Linked DNA regions of Homo sapiens. The protein of the gene in region 2 purifies or fractionates together with the protein of the main gene of each other region. This does not show direct contact. Each region holds a gene or a part of one and is shown on either strand. Other genes may lie near its edges.

Region 1 (7,099 bases), on a different chromosome or scaffold from region 2:
CCGTCATGGGCATCTGGATGGTCAGCTTCATCCTCTCCACACTGCCCTCCATTGGCTGGCACAACAACGGCGAGCGCTACTATGCCCGCGGCTGCCAGTTCATAGTCTCCAAGATCGGCCTCGGCTTTGGCGTTTGCTTCAGCCTCTTGCTACTTGGGGGAATTGTCATGGGTCTGGTCTGTGTGGCCATCACCTTCTACCAGACACTGTGGGCCCGGCCCCGGAGGGCTCGGCAGGCCCGGAGAGTGGGGGGTGGTGGGGGGACCAAAGCGGGTGGGCCAGGGGCCTTGGGTACCCGGCCAGCTTTTGAGGTACCAGCCATTGTGGTGGAGGATGCCCGAGGGAAGCGGCGGTCCTCGCTGGATGGCTCGGAGTCTGCCAAGACATCCCTGCAGGTCACCAACTTGGTCAGCGCCATCGTCTTTCTCTATGACTCACTCACAGGGGTGCCCATCTTGGTGAGATCGGGGTCCTCCCCACCTGTTCTCCCCAATATCCAGGCCCCAGCATCATCACCTGACCTCCAACTTCATCAGCCATACAGCAGCTCCGTCATCTCTCCTCCAGTTCCATCATCCATCTTCCTCTCCTCTGTCCATCCCCCACTCCATTTGTGGCCCCCATCTTGATCATCTGTCTTTTAGTTCCCACTACCCTGTTTACCCCAGCTCCAGCATCTGCTTCAGTTCCCACTCCTCAGCTCCATCACCGTCCTTCAGTTCCACGACCTGTCCTCCAGCTCCGTCATCCATCCTGCAGCTCCACGGTTCAGCCGCAGACCTCTCATCCAGCCGCTGGGCTCCACTCTCCATTCCCTCCTTCCCTCGGGCTGCCACATGGTCTCTGAGCACTCTTGGCTGGAAATCCCACAGGGCTCACCCCACCACCCCATCTAGTCACTGTTCCTGGGTTCCTGTCTGTCTCTACGGTTCCTGGTCCACCTCTGTTCCTCTCCCTCCTGACCGCAGGGCTTTGTCTCCAGCACTCTCCCCGACCTTCCTCTGAGTCAGTCCCTTCCCTCTGTTCACTCCATCTCCACCTCCGGCTTCGCCTCTGTTGGAGCACAGGGATCAGGCATTACTTCTGACGTCTTGCCCACCAGCTGCACTAGGATATGGGGTTCAGGTGGGCTCCTCAGCTCTGGCCCTGACCCAGCCCGCTCCCACCCTTCCCCAGGTGGTGAGCTTCTTCTCCCTCAAGTCGGACTCGGCGCCCCCCTGGATGGTGCTGGCTGTGCTGTGGTGCTCCATGGCACAGACGCTGCTGCTGCCCTCCTTCATCTGGTCCTGCGAGCGCTACCGCGCCGACGTGCGCACAGTGTGGGAGCAATGCGTGGCCATCATGTCTGAGGAGGATGGAGATGACGGTCAGAGGAGGGGCTGGGCTTTGGCTTTCCTGGACATCTGTCTATTCCCTTTTCTGCCGCTCCTTCTCAGCCAGAGGATGGGCTGCCCTGGAGTGCCCCCTACTGGACAGAATCTGCACCACCCTGGGCTCCCCTTTCCCTAAGCAGGCACCCTGCTGTCCACTCACTGCTTCCCGCAGCACTCAGGGCTCCCTTCACTGGGCCTAGGCTCCCCTCCAGAAACCCACACTGCCCAGCTCTGGCACTATGGGGAACCTGAGCTTCCCGAGAGAGGCCCCCCAGCTATAGGGACGGCTCTTGGGGGAGTGCAGGCAATTGTTTCAATAACTTCATCTATATGTATGAAGCACTCCACTCAGGATTTAGCACTGAACGCAGCAAATGCTAGCCACTCTCACTGTCCTCTTGGAACATACATGCTAATGGGAACTAAAGGGGTCTCTGGGAGCTTATAAAGGCAGTGGTGGGAGGCCGCGGTAGGCATTCCCTACCTGTAACCACTCTGCCCATTTTCTCTCCTAGATGGGGGCTGTGACGACTATGCAGAGGGCCGAGTTTGCAAAGTTCGCTTTGATGCTAACGGAGCCACAGGACCAGGGAGCCGGGACCCCGCCCAGGTGAAGCTGCTGCCTGGAAGGCACATGCTCTTCCCTCCTCTTGAGAGAGTCCACTACTTACAGGTATGGAACTGGGGGATACATCTCCTACCCTTGGTGCCGCTCATCACTTTTCTCCAGTGTCTGTTAGGCACCCCAATCCCCTCTTCCCTAGCCCTGGCTTTCAGGGCACCATAGAGCTGGGTGAAAGAAAGCTATAGCAAGAGAGGCATCCCTTCAGACCTCGTGGGGCCAGGTTTGCCCACCGGAGCAAACGTTTTGAAGGTTAAGAAGGTGGCACCATCTTCCGGAGTCCCCACTTGGTTCCTGCCTCTGCCTCTGTCCCTGCAGCACCTTCAGGTCTTACCCGCTCCTCTTCCCAGGTCCCCCTATCCCGGCGTCTGTCCCATGATGAGACAAACATCTTCTCTACCCCTCGGGAACCAGGCTCCTTCCTGCACAAGTGGTCATCCTCTGATGACATCCGGGTCCTCCCAGCCCAGAGCCGGGCCCTCGGGGGTCCTCCTGAGTACCTGGGACAAAGACACAGGTTGGAGGACGAGGAGGACGAGGAAGAGGCTGAAGGTGGGGGGCTGGCCAGCCTTCGCCAATTCTTGGAGAGTGGGGTTCTGGGGTCAGGTGGGGGACCCCCACGGGGTCCTGGCTTCTTCCGGGAGGAGATCACCACCTTCATCGATGAGACACCTCTGCCTTCTCCGACTGCCTCACCAGGGCACTCTCCTCGTCGGCCCCGGCCACTGGGCCTCTCACCCCGCCGACTCTCCCTTGGGTCCCCTGAGAGCAGAGCCGTTGGACTTCCTTTGGGACTAAGCGCAGGGAGACGCTGCTCCCTGACGGGGGGTGAAGAAAGTGCAAGGGCTTGGGGAGGATCCTGGGGCCCAGGCAACCCCATCTTTCCCCAGCTGACCCTGTGAGCCCAAGCAGGCCTGCTGAACTCAGAGGAGAAAGCCTGAGTGAGTAACACCTCATTCTGGCCGAGAGTAGGGCAGCTGCCTCCAGACTCTGGGGAGACGGGCGCTAGATTTGGGGCTCAGAAGGCCCTGCTCTCTCCCATCCAAGTGACCAGATGCCCTACTCAGCTTCCATCACCCCTAGCAATATGTATTAAAGTCTGAAGTGTTGCCATGGAAACCTCAGTGTCCAGTGTACTGCGGTGGAAAGGGGCTTGGAGGGTGGAGTGGCTCACAGGGGACACGACAGAGCAGGGGCAGCAGACAGAGGCACAGAAGGACACATGGAGAAATGATCACATGCTCCACCAGGCAGCCTCGCACAGGGAAGGCTGGGAGGAGCATATCCTGCTGGGGGCGGGGCTTGAGGACACACATCTTCGTTGGTTGGGGTATGAAGGATCTCTGTTCAGATTTGTTGAGGTGGTTTTAGAGCGTGGCTCCAGCCCCAGTGCCCAACTCTCCTTCTAACCTCAAATCCATGCAGGGGCTCACTTTATGGGCAGGAAAGGTTTTGGGGCTGATGCAGTGTCCCGGGCCTGGACACCTCCTCCTTGCTGCATTTTAAAGCTCTTTCTCCAAAGGAGTGCAGGGGTGGATGAGTGTGTGTGTGGGCGGGGGTGGGAGTGCAGGGGTGGATGAGTGTGTGTGTGGGGGAGTGCAGGGGTGGATGAGTGTGTGGGGGGGGTGGGAGTGCAGGGGTGGATGAGTGTGGGGGGGTGGGAGTGCAGGGGTGGATGAGTGTGGGGGGGTGGGGGGGGGCGAGGGGGGGATCGGCGTCCACACTCCTTTTTCTGGACCCAGAAGCGTGTGTGTGGAGGGAACACAGCCCCAGTAGTTACCCCCAGACCTCAGGGGCTGAAGTCACCGCTGGGGCTGAAGTCATCCTTCATGGATGCCCAGGCCTGCTCCAGTTCCCGCCTTTTGCCCTCCTCCTCCCAGTTTCTCCCTCTTATTCCACACTAGACCAGCTTTGTCCACTCAGCACTCTTCTCTCTCCATCTTTTCACATGGGCCTCTCCCACCATCGGGTCTCAGCCCCATCTTCTCTCTCTCTCTCTCTCTCGGCCTCCCTCATTATTTCTCCCTCTCCCTCCGCCTCTCCATCTCTCCTTCCTCCCCCTCCCTCCCCTTCCCCCCTTTCCTCTCCCTCCCTCTCGGCTCCCGCATTTCCCCTCGGCTGCCGGCGGCTCCGACATCATGCTCCGGCTCCTCCGGCCGCTGCTGCTACTGCTGCTGCTGCCTCCCCCGGGGTCCCCTGAGCCCCCCGGCCTGACCCAGCTGTCCCCGGGGGCGCCCCCGCAGGCCCCCGACTTGCTCTACGCTGACGGGCTGCGCGCCTACGCGGCCGGGGCTTGGGCGCCGGCCGTGGCGCTGCTGCGGGAGGCGCTGCGGAGCCAGGCGGCGCTGGGCCGGGTGCGGCTGGATTGCGGGGCGAGCTGCGCGGCCGATCCGGGCGCCGCGCTCCCCGCCGTGCTTCTCGGGGCCCCGGAGCCCGACTCCGGGCCGGGACCCACGCAGGGGTCCTGGGAGCGACAGCTTCTCCGTGCAGCGCTCCGCCGCGCAGACTGCCTGACCCAGTGCGCAGCACGGAGGCTGGGCCCCGGGGGCGCGGCGCGGCTTCGCGTGGGGAGCGCGCTCCGGGACGCCTTCCGCCGTCGGGAGCCCTACAACTACCTGCAGAGGGCCTATTACCAGGTGGGGAGCGGGCCGGGCAGCTCCGAGGGTCCCAGCCCTCACCACGACGCTGTCCTACTTTGCGTTGCCCAGGAGTAGGCGGAATGCTGTTGCCCGGGCCCCGCACGGGGCTGGGGAGCGTACCGCGGGCCTCTGCGTAGGAGCTGGCTAAGCGACCGCGAGGACCTCTTGAGATCGCAGAGGAGCAGCCGAGGGGGAGTGCGAGCAGAATGGGAATGGGGCGGGGAGGTCGTGAGGTGGGACGGGAGCAGATCGAAGATGGAGGGACAGGGCCGCCTCTTCCTAGGAATGAAGCGGAGGCGGTGGGGGCGAAACCGGCTCTCGGACGGGAAGTGTGCGTGGGTGTGTGTGTGTGTCGGGGGTGGTGGTGAGTGTGAACCTTCGCTTGGGGCAGGAGGTAGCTTCGGAAAGGAAGGAGCAGACGGAGGCAAGGTTGGGGTCCTCCGAGGCCAGACCTCTGCGGGCGGGGAGGGGACAGCACGCCGCAGCCGCCGGTACCGCAGCAGTTGCCTACGTGGCTGGGGAAGCGGGGCGCCGGTTGTACTCACCTCAGCTCAGGGTCCTAGAGACCTGCGGGTTTTGCTGGTCGCTGAGGTCTCCCCCACTTCCCCACCTCACTTAAGCCATCACTTCCACCTGGTCTCCCAAATTGAGGTCCTGAAGTCCTGAGACCCATGTCCCACCCAACTCCGACGTCTTTAGATCCCCTTTCCCTCGGTGCCAGCCTTCTGAGAGTCCCAACGTTCTGGCCTCTAGGGGATCTGCAGTTCGGGCGGTGGGCGGTTCTGATTGGCCAGTCTTCCATGAGGCTCTGGGGCACCCAGAGTGTGTGTCTGGGGTAGGGTGGGGAGGCTGGCCAGGGGGCAGAGGTCTGCCCCCCGTCCCAGGGCTCTGATGCCCTCCTCCCTTCGCCTCCTCAGTTGAAGAAGCTGGATCTGGCAGCTGCGGCAGCACACACCTTCTTTGTAGCAAACCCCATGCACCTGCAGATGCGGGAGGACATGGCTAAGTACAGACGAATGTCGGGAGTTCGGCCCCAGAGCTTCCGGGACCTGGAGACGCCCCCACACTGGGTGAGAATCCCAGCACCACCCCTGTCTTGCCACCAGCCTTTTCCTGGCTGGATACACAGGCCTCACTAAACTGTGCGTTGTGCTGCTTGAGCATACAGATGGGGTAATGATCCTCAGCGACCCTGGCTGGGAGTCCTTCTCTAGGACTTCGTTTCCTTCCTGGATGATCACTGAAATCTGATGTTCTAACATTATGATTCTGAGGCCCACCCTTATTCTTCTCCACGGTGAAGAGGGACATGGAGTCCTTGCCCCAAATGAGACCAACACCCCTCTCCTCTCTACCTCCCAGTTTGGCAACCCCTGGATCTTAGGTGACTGACTGCTCCCTTCCCCAACAGGCAGCCTATGACACTGGCCTGGAGCTACTGGGGCGCCAGGAGGCAGGACTGGCACTGCCCAGGCTAGAGGAGGCTCTTCAGGGGAGCCTGGCCCAGATGGAGAGCTGCCGTGCTGACTGTGAGGGGCCTGAGGAGCAGCAGGGGGCTGAAGAAGAGGAGGATGGGGCTGCGAGCCAGGGGGGCCTCTATGAGGCCATTGCAGGTAAGGGTCCCGTGTGTGAGGGGGTGGGTCGGTGCCCAGGGAGGGGCATGAACAAGCTGAATGGCTTATGGGTTTCCTCTGCAGGACACTGGATTCAGGTCCTGCAGTGCCGGCAACGCTGTGTGGGGGAAACAGCCACACGCCCTGGTCGCAGCTTCCCTGTCCCAGACTTCCTTCCCAACCAGCTGAGGCGGCTACATGAGGCCCATGCTCAGGGTCAGTTGGGGAAGGGTGGAAACGGGGAGTGAAGATTTGCCTCTGCTGCTATCCTGAGCTCCATCTCTCTATCCCTCCCATCTGTCTCTGGATTTGTAGTTTCACTGTCAGGGCTGCATGGGAACCATCACTTCACAAGGACTCTAATTTGCCCTCCTTTGGCGCCTGTGACAAGCTCAGGAGATGGGCTTCCTTCTGCCTTGCTGCTTCTCACCTTCCTTTATTTTCCCCCCTCTTGCTCTTCTTTGAACTCTCCAGCTAAGGTATGTTTGCACCAGTGTTTGAAAGAACCGGCAGCTGAACTTGTCTGCCAGTGGGAAGGGGGCTCTTGGAGTTAGCTGTCTGGCCTCTGGAGACCACCTTCTCCAGCACTGCCTCTGCCCCAAGGATCAATGTGCTCTAAGTATTCATCCCCCAACCCCTGACCTTGTCGCTCCCTCTCCAGTGGGCAATCTGTCCCAGGCTATAGAAAATGTCCTGAGTGTCCTGCTCTTCTACCCGGAGGATGAGGCTGCCAAGAGGGCTCTGAACCAGTACCAGGCCCAGCTGGGAGAGCCGAGACCTGGCCTCGGACCCAGAGAGGTAATCCCCTCTCCACGCTCACCTGGGAGGTAGCCCCAAATCAAACAAATAGAC
Region 2 (7,614 bases):
CACCTTAGCAATAACTGTAGGGGTCTCTGCTAGAGTTGTTTGTATGTACAGCAATTTTGAACAAATTGTTTTAAATGTAATATAAGAGAATTAGTTTAAGGAAGTAAAGAGAATCATTTGCTTGTGTTACATTTTCAGTGAGGATTCAGTTTAAGAGTCATTCTTAGGACTTCCATTTCCTAATATTTATTCATGGGTAATGAAGAAATGGTTTGCATTTTGTGGCCAGTCCTAATTTATTTTCCAGCTGAGCCCTAACTTCCGGCTCCCACCTACCTCCACGGACTTCCTAACAGAGACTTATGAATACCAGGATGTGTTTTTGTTAAGTCAGGTTCAATTCGTTGCCCCTGTCAGTTTTATAGAGTGTGAGGGTCACTCCATTAAAGATCTCTCCTGGGTGGATCCTACTTGGATGTTCAGGTGATTTTGAAAACTGCTAACATTTTTAAAAGGCTAGAACATCCTTTGACTTCTTGAAAATCTGCATGTCTGGCTTGGGTTTTATTACCACATGCCTGAGTTCTTCAAGAATGGAAGGCTCAAGTATTCTCATCTTCCATTTGCCAAACTTCCTTCCTGATTTGAGTCACGTGTTCCACTTGGAAAGAAAGGGAACAGAGAGCCTCCTCCATGGACAGTGTATGAATTTCATTGGGAATCTTGCTCTCTCCCGCCTCTATGCCTTTCTCTCTTTTTAACCTTACTTTACATAATATTATAGATGGGCCAAGAAAAGAAAAGATGACATAACATTTTGATGAATTTCACCTATTCCATTCTTCACGTTTCAGAATTGGTCGACTTTGTTAGAAGATAATTGAAGTAGCCTTGGGTCAAAAGCAACCTTTTCAATTGTGATCATACCTAAAACATATAAAAACCCTGCCGTAGATTAAAAGCAATTATAAAATCATAAAATTGAATGTTTGCAGAATCCTGGAGCAGTAGATTTCTTTGTCTTTGGCCTGCGGACTAGAAAGAGGGCAGCAGTAGTATGCTGGAGCTTCCCTGGGATACCAGCCACATGGTTTCTTTTCATTAGATCTGATTTTTGTTTCCCACTGTAGATCTGATTTTGTAGTTGAAAACATTTCACCACCATCAAACACTATTTCTGAATATTGTGCCTTTTTATACCTAGCCTAGATGAAAACCGATGCCATTCTTATTCAGAAAATCCCCCCATCCTACATGACTGTTATCTAGACATAAAGCAAAGTGCATTTAATTCAAAATTTGGTTCACAATATAAGTATTTTGTAAAAGCCAGCTGAACCAGCATTTTATCAGGTGGAAATCTCTGCAAGCCAAATTGCTGATACTCCTTCATGCAGATCAACTTGGTGTCCCAGTCAGAATAGAACAGCATAATTACCTGGAGTTAGGGGGAGTATTTCTGCACTATTACTTGTCAGGGAGAGAAGAAACTTAGAATTGTCCCTCAAAGGAGTGTCAAGAAGTATGAATAAATGTCCTTTCACCAGCTCACAGGCCAGAAATGGAGGACCCAAGTCAACTAGGTGAAACTACTAGCAGACCCAGCTTTCCCATAATAACCTAATCTGCAAATTGTTCTATTAAAGTCTCATTGTTTTCAGGATGCAATGAAAGTGGATTTCAAAAGGCTTTGGAAAAATAAGTGGAACATGACTGATCTTGAAAAAAAAAGCAAAAGCTTAAATATTTGATACAAGTTTACTTAGCTACAACATACTTTACATTGTTGCCTTTAGTTATCTCACAGGCACTGACATTTTATATTTAGAAAATACTTTTAATCTTTCTAATCTTTTTTTGTAAATATTAGTGTCCATTCTGTATGACTCGCTAACCTACTTTGCAAGGCTTTGGGCAACATTTTAGCTCATTAACTTCAAGATGATGTGTCATCTGTATAGGTCAAAGAATGGGACTTCTGAACTGAGGAATTTGCTGTTGACAGCCAAAGTATAGTGTACAAGATTGATGTAACTTGATATGTATTTTTGTTGAAGTTTTTTGTAAAAAAAAATTATTTACAATGTTATTTGAATGATTTTTTTAAATGCTGTGAATCTATATTTGTTGTTTTGTATATTAAAATTCATTTGCCAAACTCGTTCTGATGATGCATTTGAGTAGCAGCCTTTAAAAGGAGGAAGTGGAGAGCTGGGTGCGGGGGCTTCTGGGATTTGTAGCTCCTCTGCTGCCCTGATGTCCCTAGACTTCTCAGTGGCAACAACTCATCCATTCAGGAGCTCCATGTAACCACTGGGTAGGCGTGGGAGAAGGGGGGCTCCGAGGGCAACCTCGGAGGGCACCCTGGCTTGAGAAACGTCAGTGGTTGGAGTAAGAGGGATGCGGAAGGGAGCAGTGGGGCGGGGCCGCTTTTGCTAGGGATCATGGAGAGGAGACAGAACAACAGACTGTGCCCTCTGACTGCCCCTGAAGGCTAGGCCCTGCCACAGGAGCTGTGCTAGTGGCCCTGCTCACTCGCCCTTTGCGGGTGGGTAGATTAGAATTTCCTTCTCCAACAGCTCAGAAGAGCTAAGTCAACAGCCCATTGTTTGCTGTGGCTGTAATCAGAAAAGGATTCCTATGAAGGCTGCCAAGTGGCTACTGCCCACTTTTTGTTTACTCTTAATATCCACCTGCTTCCCAAAGTGATCTGCTCCTCCCAACCTTGGGCTGCACTGGGGAAGGGCGGTCGCTAGGGTGGGGAGGGGGCGAGCCCCAGAACCCATAGGGCAGAGCATAGTGGCTCCATGTATAGGACACAGTGAAAGAGATGGGGGTGGCATTTTCTTCCAGGAGAGTTGTGGGGAGATGACCGTTAGGTCATAAGCGCGCCCCTACTCTGCACTGGCGAGACCAGCAAAGCTGGAGTGAACCCAGCTGAACCTGGGCCGCAGCAGCCCCGGAGGCTGGAGGCGCTGCAGTCGGGAAACACCAGGAGGATGGAGCCCTTTTCCCTGTAAGCAGGAGGCCAGGATCCTGATTCCTGAGCCGGCTTCCCACGGACCCCAGGCCCCGGCAGGGTCCTGGCGGGAGGAAGAACCCACGGAGTGAGTGGGGTGTCAGCAAAGCGGGGCCGCAGGGCAGGTTCTGGAAGCCTCTCCGCGTGGCTGGGCTGGAGTGTGCAGACGTGGGAGAGCCCGGAATGGGGAGCGCGTGGCCGGTGGAGGCCCGAGGCTGTGCTTCCGTCGCTGGCTCTGAGGCAGAGGTCCAGGCCGGCAGGCTGCCCAGGTGGTCCTGTCTCAGAGCTCTCCGGGGCGCAGAGGCGCGGGAAGCGGGGAAGGGCCGGGCAGCGAGACGGGTGTCCCCAGCAGGAGGTCGGGGACCCGTCGCGCGTTCCGTCGGGGCCGCCTGCGGTGCAGGGGTCAGAGACCAGCCACGCGAGCAAGAGGGAGCCCGGCCAGAACTGCTGAGAGCCCCCAGCGGAGCTGGGACTCAGGGGCTCCTTGCGTTTAGCCACCAAGAGTGGGGGCAGGCTGCGGGGTGCCGGGGAGAAGCCAGATCTCACTCATTTTACACCGACTAATTAGATCCCGCCGCCCACCTGGGACCACGGCATTGTCATGTCCGCTGCACTGACGGGGAAATTGAGGCACGGGGGCGAGTAAGGCGGGAGAGGGAGTCGGCGCCGCCGAGCTGGGGCGAGCCCCGCACCCACCCGTACACTCGGCCTCTGCCCCTGCTCTGTGCGTGGGCTCCTGCTCTGTGCGTGGCCTCGCCGCCGAGCTGGGGTGAGCCCCGCACCCACCCGTACACCCGGCCTCTGCTCCTGCTCTTTGCGTGGCCTCCTGCTCTGTGCGTGGCCTCTGCTCCTGCTGCGTGCACTGCGGCATCTCGGGAAACCGGGCTGGGCTCCTCTGTCCTCTGGAAGCTACTGTAAGTTTTAGATAAATGTTACTACTAGACACGAGGAAAGTGAGTCCATGATTACTGGCATTGAACAAATGGTTGCACCGCGTTCTCCGTGGTAGGTGGAGTGTGTGATTGTGAGAGGGGAATGGACACTGAATCCTTACCTACACAAATGCCTAAACTCGTAAGGCATTACGACACACCCATCTGAAAATCTAATTAAGCGGTAGGAATTCTAATGGTCCGGGATCCAAATGAGACCCAGCCACTTAACAGTTAGCAGCCTTCAGTTTTGTCCTGTTGCCCGTAATTACCCCAAGGTCAGGGAGAAGCACTGAAGCAAAGGCATGAACATCACTTTGAAAAAGAAAGGAGTTAATGGGTGCAGCACACCAACATGGCTCATGTATACATATGTAACAAACCTGCACGTTGTGCACATGTACACTAGAACTTAAAGTATTATATATATATATATATATATATATGAAAGAAACCTGCCTGGGGCACTCCTTCCTTCAGACTCCCCTTGAAAGTATTCCCTCATTTCATTCAAAAGGATTTAACTTTTCTAAACTAAGTGGTGCTGGTAGAATATGCTACCTGATTTACGTGTTGCTGTAATTCTTGAAGCTCTTCCAAGACATCTTGGCCTTCCTCTGTTCCCTCCCCTTCCTGCTATTTTGCAGACATATCCACTGGGGAATTGTATGGCAGGAAGGCTGATTTTATTTAGCTGGCCCTTGATTCTTGGTTTGCACAGTATCTGGGTCCAGCCTGCAGCCCTAGGGTCCAGGTAAGTTCATCAGGAAAGGATTTCTTTACATTCAATTTAAGCCATCTAGGTCCTAAAACAACGCTTATATTATCTGTGGGATAATCCTGCTTAGTTATTTGCAAAATAGTCAGATGTCTATACAGTTTTGGGTAGGAAAGGGGTAAGCCGCTTTCAAAATTCATTCTTGAGGAAGAGGCTAAAGAGGAGATAAAAGCAGATTTTGAAATTCTTCTGCTGGAACTCTGCAATTGGCTGGGAGGAGAGAGAAAAACCATAGAATAAGTCATAAGAATAGTGGGCTTTTTTTCTTTTTTTCAGATGTAGTCTTGCTCTGTCGCCCAGGCTGGAGTGCAGTGTCATGATTTCAGCTCACTGCAACCTCGCCTCCCGGGTTCAAGCAATTATCTGCCTCAGTCTCCCGAGTAGCTGGGATTACAGACATGGGCCACCACACCCTGCTAATTTTTGTATTGTTAGTAGAGATGGGGTTCCACCATCTTGGCCAGGCTGCTCTTGAACTCCTGACCTTATGATCCAACCGCTTTGGCCTCCCAAAGTGCTGGGATTTTTTTTGAGACAGAGTCTCACTCTGTTGTCCAGACTGGAGTGCAGTGGCAGGATCTCAGCTCACTGCAAGCTCCGCCTCCCGGGTTCACACCATTCTTCTGCCTCAGCCTCCTGAGTAGCTGGGACTACAGGAGCCTGCCACCGCGCCTGGCTACTTTTTTTTTTTTTTTTGTATTTTTAGTAGAAACGGGGTTTCACTGTGGTCTCGATCTCCTGACCTCGTGATCCGCCTGCCTCGGCCTCCCAAAGTGCTGGGATTACAGGCATGAGCCACCACGCCCGGCCTATGATGGATCTTTTTAAGAGAGCTTTCTAGAGAAGCTTATAGATTATTTTGCACAAATTTTAATGTGTACTTTTTTTTCCTGATCAGGTTCATCATATTCAGATTGTACACATTTTCATTTTTATGGCTATGCTAATTTACAGTGCAGGAAAAAAATAACTGTCAAGATATGTTGAAGAAGGCTGGGCGCGGTGGCTCACACCTGTAATCCCAGCACTTTGGGAGGCTGAGGCGGGTGGATCATGAGGTCAGGAGATCAAGACCATCCTGGCTAACAAGGTGAAACCCCGTCTCTACTAAAAAACAAAAAATTAGCCAGGCGTGGTGGTGGGCGCCTGTAGTCCCAGCTACGCGGGAGGCTGAGGCAGGAGAATGGCGTGAACCCAGGAGGCAGAGCTTGCAGTGAGCCGAGATCGCGCCACTGCACTCCAGCCTGGGCAACAGAGCGAGGCTCTGTCTCAAAAAAAAAAAAAAAAAAAAAAGATATGTTGAAGAAATGTATAAAGTGTGTAATATAGAGAGTGCATGGAAGACAATATATTCGATGAAGGCAGCCTAGAGCTATTTTGACTCTTAGATCGTCAGATCCGGGAGGGCATTCGTCCTTTCCAGTGCATGCAGGAGGAAGCTGAGGCTCTGAGGTTTGGAAACCCAGGAGATATCACTCAGCTGATTTCTAGCAGGTTTACATTAAATCTTAGTTTTGGAGAGTTAAGAATCTTGAGGAGTGATAACCTTGGCTGTAGAATTAAGGATATGATGTTCTTGGAGAAAATTAATCAGGAAGAGGGCACTGGGTGACCATTTATCAAGAGATTCTTTAGCAAAGGACAGATATAGGTAAAGAATCGGAGAATGAGTCAGAAATAAGTGAACTAAATAAGAACACTATTTTGGGGGGACTAAAAAACATTAACTTCAAAGTTATTTGCAGTCTGTGTCCCTTTGCCCTGACCATGCCAGTATGTCTGGCTCATGCGGTCACAGCATTCTGCAGAATGATGGCCTCTATTCTCTATACATACATATGATATCAATGTATAGAGATCTTGTCTTGATTTGTCCAAGGCAGTGACTGTTGTCGCTTTTTACATATATTACTGGGAGGGTTGTATGCCCAGTGAGTCCCCAGCAGCTGTCACTCTGGCTGACTACAGATGTCTGCAAGCCTCCTCACTTCTGAAGAGCGGCCGCACCTTGGGCAGCGCATGCCTTGAATTAGGATGTGGGCTCAGCTGTGTGTCAAGACCCCAAATAACAGTGGCTTATGCAAGATAGAAGTCTATTTCTGTTTCATATGCTTATGTCAAAGATGTGCTGGCAGGTCTGGTCTGTGGAGTCATCTGAGGCCAGGGGTTTTTCTATCCCCAAATTGTTGCCCTCCTTCAAGGAGTCCCACATGGTTCACCATGCCATGCACACCCCCCCACAGGAAGCGGGAAAGGGCACCCCCTTACCCTTTAAGGCCGGTCATTGCACACAATTACACGTCTCACTTTTGCTCATCCCCATGGCCCGTAATCTAGCTCATGGTCATACCCAGGCTGCAAGGGAGGCTAGGGAGTGCAGTCTATCATGGGCCCCTAGAAGCCCAGCTAAAATTTCTATTACTCTGGATGAAGGTGAGAAGGGGTGTTGGAGATTACTAGCAACTCCACGAAAGCACTGACAAGGATCAGAGTTGATACCCAGTCACCTTCCCAAGTGATGGTCCACACACAGTTGGAACCAGGATAGTATTTCTTGCATGCCTGCATTGATTCATTCAACAAATACTTGACTGAAAATAAGGAAGTAGAAAAATGCAGTCACCATCTTCATAAAGCTCTAACCCAGGTTGGTGCCTACTAAGTGATCATTAGTCTAGGTGTGGTGTACAGAGTAAGTGGGGACTGGGGAGGACAGTAATTCAGATGAGAGAGAGAGTGGATGATTGCAGGGAAAGATGGGAGACAGAAGAGGCTCCTAGCTCTAGTGCCTTCTGGGAAAAGACCAGACCCAGAAATTAAAAGTCAAGAGTGTAACTGTAGTTGAACTAATGAAACTGAGGGTCCAACCCATAGCTTTGTGAGAGGCACAAATGTAATTTTTTATTTTTCAAAATAACATTAATATAATTTCTTCTATATTCCTT
Region 3 (7,024 bases), on a different chromosome or scaffold from region 2:
AAAACACTTGGAAAAGTATAGTACTGTAGACATGTAACAAAATTGCACTTGTGCCCTTTACATTTATATAAACATTTTTAAAAGTATTTAAGTTACATTTTGATCTTTACCAAAATTTACTCTTCAATTCAAGGGTTGTTTCTGTCTTGTACAAAATTGTATTGCATAGCTCTCTTTTTTTTTTCTTAAACTACCAAAGCAGAAAGGAGTTATCTAGTCTTAGATCCATTTTGAACTATGAAAAGATAAACGGTATTTTGACACTTACCTACATTAGTTAAAAGTGATTTTGCCTATTAAAACTTTAAGAAAGATCCAAATTATTATTATTATTATTATTATTTTTTTTTTTTTGCGACGAGTCTCGCTCTGCCGCCTAGGCCGCAGTGCAGTGGCATGATCTTGGCTCACTGCAAGCTCTGCTTCCCGGGTTCACGCCATTCTCCTGCCTCAGCCTCCTGTGTAGCTGGGACTACAGGCGCCCGCCACCACGCCCGGCTAAGTTTTTTTATTTTTAGTAGAAATGTGGTTTCACCATGTTAGCCAGGATGGTCTGGATCTCCTGACCTCGTGATCCACCCGCCTGGGCCTCCCAAAGTGCTGGGATTACAGGCGTGAGCCATCGTGAACGGCCCAAATGATTCTTAATTTTATGTCTCATTTGTTTGAATCATTGCTTCGTTACCCAGCAAAATAAAACAAATTAATTTATATAATTTTTATTAAAGCCTATCAAAATTATGGAATAGGCTTTTCTTTTCTCCCCCCCCCCCCTTTTTTTTTTTTTGAGACGAAGTCTCGCTCTTGTCCCCCAGGCTGGAGTGCAATGGTGCGGTCTTGGCTCACTGCAACCTTCGGCTCCTGGGTTCAAGCGATTCTCCTGCCTCAGCCTCCCGAGTAGCTGGGATTACGGGCTCCTGCCACCACACCCGGCTAATATTTTTTGTATTTTTAGTAGAGATGGGGTTTCGCCATGTTGGCCAGGATGGTCTCAAACTCCTGACCTCAGGTGATCCGCCCACCTCAGCCTCCCAAAGTGCTGGGATTACAGGCGTGAGCCACCGTGCCCGGCCAGAATAAGCTTTTCTTAAATCCTAATTACTTAAACTCTTAAAAAAATTTTTTTTCTGGCTGGGCACAGTGGCCCAGAGATTACAGGCGCCCGCCACCATGTCCAGCTAATTTTTGTATTTTTAGTAGAGTTGGGGTTTTACTGTGTTGGCCAGGCTGGTCTCCATCTCCTGACCTGAAGTGATCCACCCGCCTTGGCCTTTTAAAGTGCTGGGATTACAGGCGTGAGCCACCGCGCCTGGTCCCCAGGCCATTCTTTCTATTCTAAGTGTCTAGTCTAGTACTGGCATTGTAGTAGGCATCCATTAAGCTTTTTTTTGAACTAGATGATGATCAATATGAAGTTTTTTTATTATGACATTCTTACTAATTAAGTGCTTATTCTTAGTAATTTTCTTTGTCACGCTTTCAGGACTACAGGAATATGTGGAAGCTGTCTCTTTTCAACACTTCATCAAAACACGATCATTAATTAGTATGGATGAAATTAATAAACAATTGATATTTACGACTGAAGACAATGGGAAAGAAAATAAAACTGTGAGAATTTAAAATTTATTTCACATTTGTTATATAATTTATGTAACAGTATGACGATTCTAGTAGATTTACTGGCTTATGCTAAGATTGAGATGGGAATGTTCTTTCTAAAGTATGGTTTTGTAGAGTCTCAACTAGGAAATGGTCTTTTTAAATATTTCAGTTAGTGGATAGAACAAGAACAACTCTGGGCATATTGGGAAAGTAATGCTCTTTACCTAAAGCATTATGGAGTGCTTACTGTAAGTCCTCTTTTGGTTTTACTCTCTATTTTTCACTTGCCCTTTGTAAGCACTGTCTTATTTAATCCTTTTATTAACCATATGTGGTAAGCATTATTACTCTCATTTTACAGAGAAAGAAACAGACTTTTAGAGAGGTTAAGTAACTTGCCAGAAGCCACAACTAAAAAGTGTGGCAGAGCTAAGATTTGAAGTTAGGTATTTTGAATCCAAGCCTGTGCCCTTGTCCACTCTGCCAGCGCTTCTCACAGTGTGCTACAGGGATCCCTTGCATCAGGTACCTACCTCAAAGGGTTGTTTTAAAGGATTTGACTTAAAGGTTATTAATTAGGCAATATACAGCAGCACCTGACACGTAATATACATTATATACAGCACCTGACACGGAAGTGCTCAGTAGTTTGCCATTATAAAGTAGTTTTTATATAGTGAGAGCTGTTAATCATTTACTCAATTCATAATGCTTATATCTGAAATTTATGTAGCTTTTCTGAATTAAGAAAAACTTTGCAGTTTGACTTTTAAACAAATACTATTTTTTTCCTTCTGGGTTTCAAGATATAACAGGCAGTAAGGTAAGCTGTATTGACTATTTGATACTTTCTGAGATACCAGTACACTTAAAATTAAATATTTTAAAATAATTTATATTATTTAAATAATTGTTTAAATATTAAATTATTAAATTATTAATTTAATTTACTAAATATTAAATATTTAATTATTTTAAAAATTTTCTTTATTTTTTCTTTTAAAAATTATTTTTAAAAACACCATATATTAAGGATAGGTAGGCAGGAGATGGAAGACACTGTAGAAATAATATTTTCTTGAATATCAACTAAAATATTAATACAAATGAGACTAATTTGGCATGACAGGTATAACTTACTTTAAGGAAGCCATGTATTAACTTTAAGTTATATGAAGTGTATTAAGGAGGAAATTTATTTTGAGAAGTAAAATTTCTTCATATTTTTTATTCATATAGTGTAGACTGAATTACACAAAGAAGTAAAGTAGGTCTATTTGACCCTGCTTCTCACGTGATATTAGGGAAGTTACCACACTTTCCTTTAAAGTTCTCTGTGTATCAAAATGAAAATATTGGGGAAAAGGCCAGAAAATTGAGAGTCAAAGTACTGTTTTCAGGACTTAGGTACCAGATTATTTTAAGATTATGGGGCTATAATATTCATATACATGTTTCAAATTGTATAAGACTATGTTCATAAATAAGTTTTAGTGCTAAAGATGCTTGGTGCTGAAATTTCTGGGAATTTGATTGGGAAAGGTATTTTGCTCTGACTTGCCTGTTGAGAATATTGTCAAAACTATTTAATTTTTATTTTAAAAAGTTTTGTGAAAAATTTCAAACATGCAGAAAAATAGAATGGAAACATTAGTGCCACTAACTAGCTATCATATTCCCATAGCTCAACGTCATATTACCTGTGATGTTTCTCGGACCTCATTTCTCATGCTAAATGATGAGGACGTTGCACCAAATGGTCTCTGCAGAGTCCAAACAGTGCTAGGATTCAAGTATTAGATACATAGCAAAGAGTGATCTTAATAAAGCTGTCTCCCTTGTCTCAGCTTATATTTATGTAACTTCCTTTAAACTTTACTCAAAAGAATTATCTCATTAGTTCCTCAAATGCACAATTCTTACCTGTATGCCTTTGTAGTTCCCACTACCTAAAATGTCCTTTGATGTAACTGCAACTTCACCTACCCTTTTATACATACCGTCTTTTAATAACAATTTAGGCATCGTCTCTACCAGAAAGAATTCAGTAGAGGGAAATTGATGTGGAGAGAGATTTCATGATGATATCATGATAGCAGCTAGCATTTGTTGAATATTTACTTTGTGTTGGGCATTATGCCAAGAACTTGGTAAATGTTCTCATTTAACCCTTAAAATAAACCTCTGAGGTAGGTACTGTTATCCCATTTTACAGATGAGGAAACTGAGGTTTAGAGAGATGAAATAACTTGCCCAAGGGCATACACCTTATGAAGCAAGGTCCTGGAAGAGGTGGGAGGAGATGGGTCAAGGTCATTTGGAAGAGTTAACCTCAAACAAGAGGAGGGACAACTCATCATCTGAGACTGGAGGATAGAAGGTAAAGATGGGTGTGGATATAAATTTTTTTTTTTTTTTTTTTTGGTAGGGATAAAGGCAGTTGTGAGAAATTGTGCTAGGTAAGCTGGCAAATGACCAGGTCACTGAAATTGGGCAAGGTTGTCTACTGAAAGTGAAGAGGTTTGGGATTTGAGTAGAGCCCTGAGGAGAGTGGTGAAAGGTTTGAAATTGTGTTTGAAGAGGCTGGAAAGAGAACCATCTAATGATAAGTAAAAGGATTGGAGAGTAATTTGTAGCGGTACAGACTCTGCAGTTGTGATTACCATTTTTTTTTAACTCAGTGAGTGGTACTCAGCCACCTGAATAAAGGACTAATGAGTATATTTTAGTATTGATTGAGGATTCTGTTTTTGCTGGGTAGGTGCAGTAGAAAATATAGCAGTCTAAGGGAATTGAGGATGCAGTGAGAGAATAATAAATTGTGATGGTGAGTGCTGAATAGGGAAAGACAAGAAGCCAGAAAAAGACTGAGCTTCTTAGGAAAACATTAATGGATCACAAACTTGGAGGGCTGTATGGTTTTTCATTTAAGAAAGTAATTGTCGTGCAATAAAGTTATTAAGCCTTGTTCAAGAATATTTTTATTTTGTACATCAAGTGGAGTTGGAAATAGTTGGTTTCATAATGATATATTTCAAAAGTATCTTGAAGTCATCTGGTTCATTTCACTACCCAGGGCACACATTCCTCCTGTAACATCCCAAGTGGTTATTAAGCAAAACAGATTTATTTTATTTAGAAAAAATTAGTATGACTGATTTGCTATTGATTTTGTACTTCTATAATAAATGTGATACATGCTATATTCACTCTTTTTCACAGTGTTCTTTCTTGTGTGTGTGTGTGTGTGTTTTTGTTTTGTTTTGTTTTTTTACCAGCCCTCCTCTGATGCACAGGATAAGCAGTTTGGTACTTGGAGACTGAGAGTCACACCTGTCGATTACCTTCTGGGAGTGGCTGACTTAACTGGAGAATTGATGCGGATGTGTATTAACAGTGTGGGGAATGGGGACATTGATACCCCCTTTGAAGTGAGCCAGTTTTTACGTCAGGTTTATGATGGGTTTTCATTCATTGGCAACACTGGACCTTACGAGGTTTCTAAGAAGCTGTATACCTTGAAACAAAGTTTGGCCAAAGTGGAGAATGCTTGTTATGCCTTGAAAGTCAGAGGGTCAGAAATTCCAAAACATATGTTGGCAGATGTGTTTTCAGTTAAAACAGAAATGATAGATCAAGAAGAGGGCATTTCTTAGAATCTAACGTTACTCAGTTACTAATTCTTTTGAGAACTCCTAAGAGACCAATTTGTAAGACTTATTTAGTATTTCATTTAACTTTATTGTGGCTTTTACATAGAAACATATTCAGTTGTACTTGTTTTAAATTGTATACAAGCTGTACATAAAATTAGCCAAATGAATCATTTCTTATATCTTATTCATGAAAGTTTGCATACAGATGTTTGCATATATGCCTTTTTGAATTTTTGCTGGTTAACCTTTATCATTTATCTTTGTAATGTGAACATGCTTCAGAGTGTACCTTTTGCCATAACCTATTTTAATTTACTTTTTCTGAAGTTTGGAGTGATAATTTTTAGTGGAAGCAATTTGTAATTTAAGTTGGTAGTTATATTATATATAGAAAAGATTTTTTAGTTAAACTTCTGGACATGAGCGTCCTGTTTAAATTTCTTGTTAATATCGTGCCAAGCCTCAAAAATAGGCTTATTCCATGGAACAAGAATTAAAAATGAATAAGCTATCAATATATAATTTAAGTACAAGTTTAGGCTGGGCGTGGTGGCTCACGCCTGTAATCCCAGCACTTTGGGAGGCCGAGGTAGGCAGATCACGAGGTCAAGAGATCAAGACCAGCCTGACCAACGTGGCGAAACCTCGTCTCTACTAGAAATACAAAAATTAGCTGGATATGGTGGTATGTGCCTGTAATCCCAGCTACTTGGGAGGCTGAGGCAGGAGACTCGCTTGAACCTGGGAGGCAGAGGTTGCAGTGAGCCGAGATTGCGCCACTGCACTCCAGCCTGGGTAACAGAGCAAGACTCCATCTCAAAAAAAGAAAGAAAGAAAAAAGAAAGTACAAGTTTATAAAGTATTATAGTGAAAAATTCGCATTCTGGCTGATTTTAAGCCATTTAAAATTTATATAAAACAACCTTCCATAAAAATTTGACAGGTGCCCAGATGTTGCTTTCTCCATTTATTTTTTGTTTTTTTTTAATCACAGTAGGTCTGATAGAGAATTGGAGCTAAATTATAATATTTTTGTTGGTAAAGTTGAGTTATATACTTGTACATACAATGGAAATGCTTTTAGTAGTGATTATTTAGCAATTTTTGTTTTTGTTATATTAGGCATGTTTGGAGGCTTTCCTATTCTAGCATTTAAATTTAAATTTTATTAAAATTAAATAATTTAAATCTAGCATTTAAATTTAAATAATTTAAGTCTAGCATTTACTTTTAAATAATTATAATGAAGTTTTGAAATACTAAGTTAATCCAGACCTTTAGTTGTCCCATGGTGTTAATAAAGTTGCCAAAGAAGATGTATTATGAACAATTCAGCAATAAGACAATTGTCAACACAGTTGAGAATAACAATGGTAATCGTTAGTAATATTTAGAATTGGAATTTGCCTACTGAAATAGTTATAGATGATTACTTGTGATGTGAAACTGAATTGAGCATGACAACCAGACATTTCCAGTTGGTTTTGTAAGTTTTGAGAATCTAGATACTGGGTTTTATTTTTTGAAAGATTAGCTCTGTTTGTAAGGGCTGATTCCTTGAAAATGTAATTTTCCAGAAAAACACCTAAAGAAAATAAAACATGGACATGCCTAGTAAATTCTGTTTTTTTGTTTGTTCGTGTTAGTGATGGTGGGTTTTTTGGTTTTGCAACTCACCTGTAGTCAACTCACTACAGGTGAGTTGGTGCCATTGCTACTGATATATCTCCACAGTTCATGTCATACTAATACTGTGGGTGTTA

What was found.
Region 1: the proteins of C1QTNF9 (region 2) and P3H3 purify together in Homo sapiens (affinity purification with mass spectrometry; 4 studies listed by BioGRID and IntAct, with this or other methods). This does not show direct contact.
Region 3: the proteins of C1QTNF9 (region 2) and TSNAX purify together in Homo sapiens (affinity purification with mass spectrometry; 3 studies listed by BioGRID and IntAct, with this or other methods). This does not show direct contact.

What each region holds. Positions count from the first base shown.
Region 1 is NC_000012.12:6,824,308-6,831,406, forward strand, and holds the start of P3H3 (prolyl 3-hydroxylase 3 precursor), read left to right. Parts: upstream 1-4,099; 5' UTR 4,100-4,133; coding exon 4,134-4,631; intron 4,632-5,551; coding exon 5,552-5,704; intron 5,705-6,045; coding exon 6,046-6,247; intron 6,248-6,331; coding exon 6,332-6,463; intron 6,464-6,908; coding exon 6,909-7,045; intron 7,046-7,099. Other genes in the region: GPR162 (probable G-protein coupled receptor 162), read left to right, coding at 1-458, 1,177-1,366, 1,889-2,046, 2,346-2,897. UniProt on the Homo sapiens protein: Part of a complex composed of PLOD1, P3H3 and P3H4 that catalyzes hydroxylation of lysine residues in collagen alpha chains and is required for normal assembly and cross-linkling of collagen fibrils.
Region 2 is NC_000013.11:24,304,972-24,312,585, forward strand, and holds the start of C1QTNF9 (complement C1q and tumor necrosis factor-related protein 9A precursor), read left to right. Parts: upstream 1-4,608; 5' UTR 4,609-4,645; intron 4,646-7,614. UniProt on the Homo sapiens protein: Probable adipokine. Activates AMPK, AKT, and p44/42 MAPK signaling pathways.
Region 3 is NC_000001.11:231,559,645-231,566,668, forward strand, and holds the end of TSNAX (translin-associated protein X), read left to right. Parts: intron 1-1,483; coding exon 1,484-1,611; intron 1,612-4,883; coding exon 4,884-5,261; 3' UTR 5,262-6,880; downstream 6,881-7,024.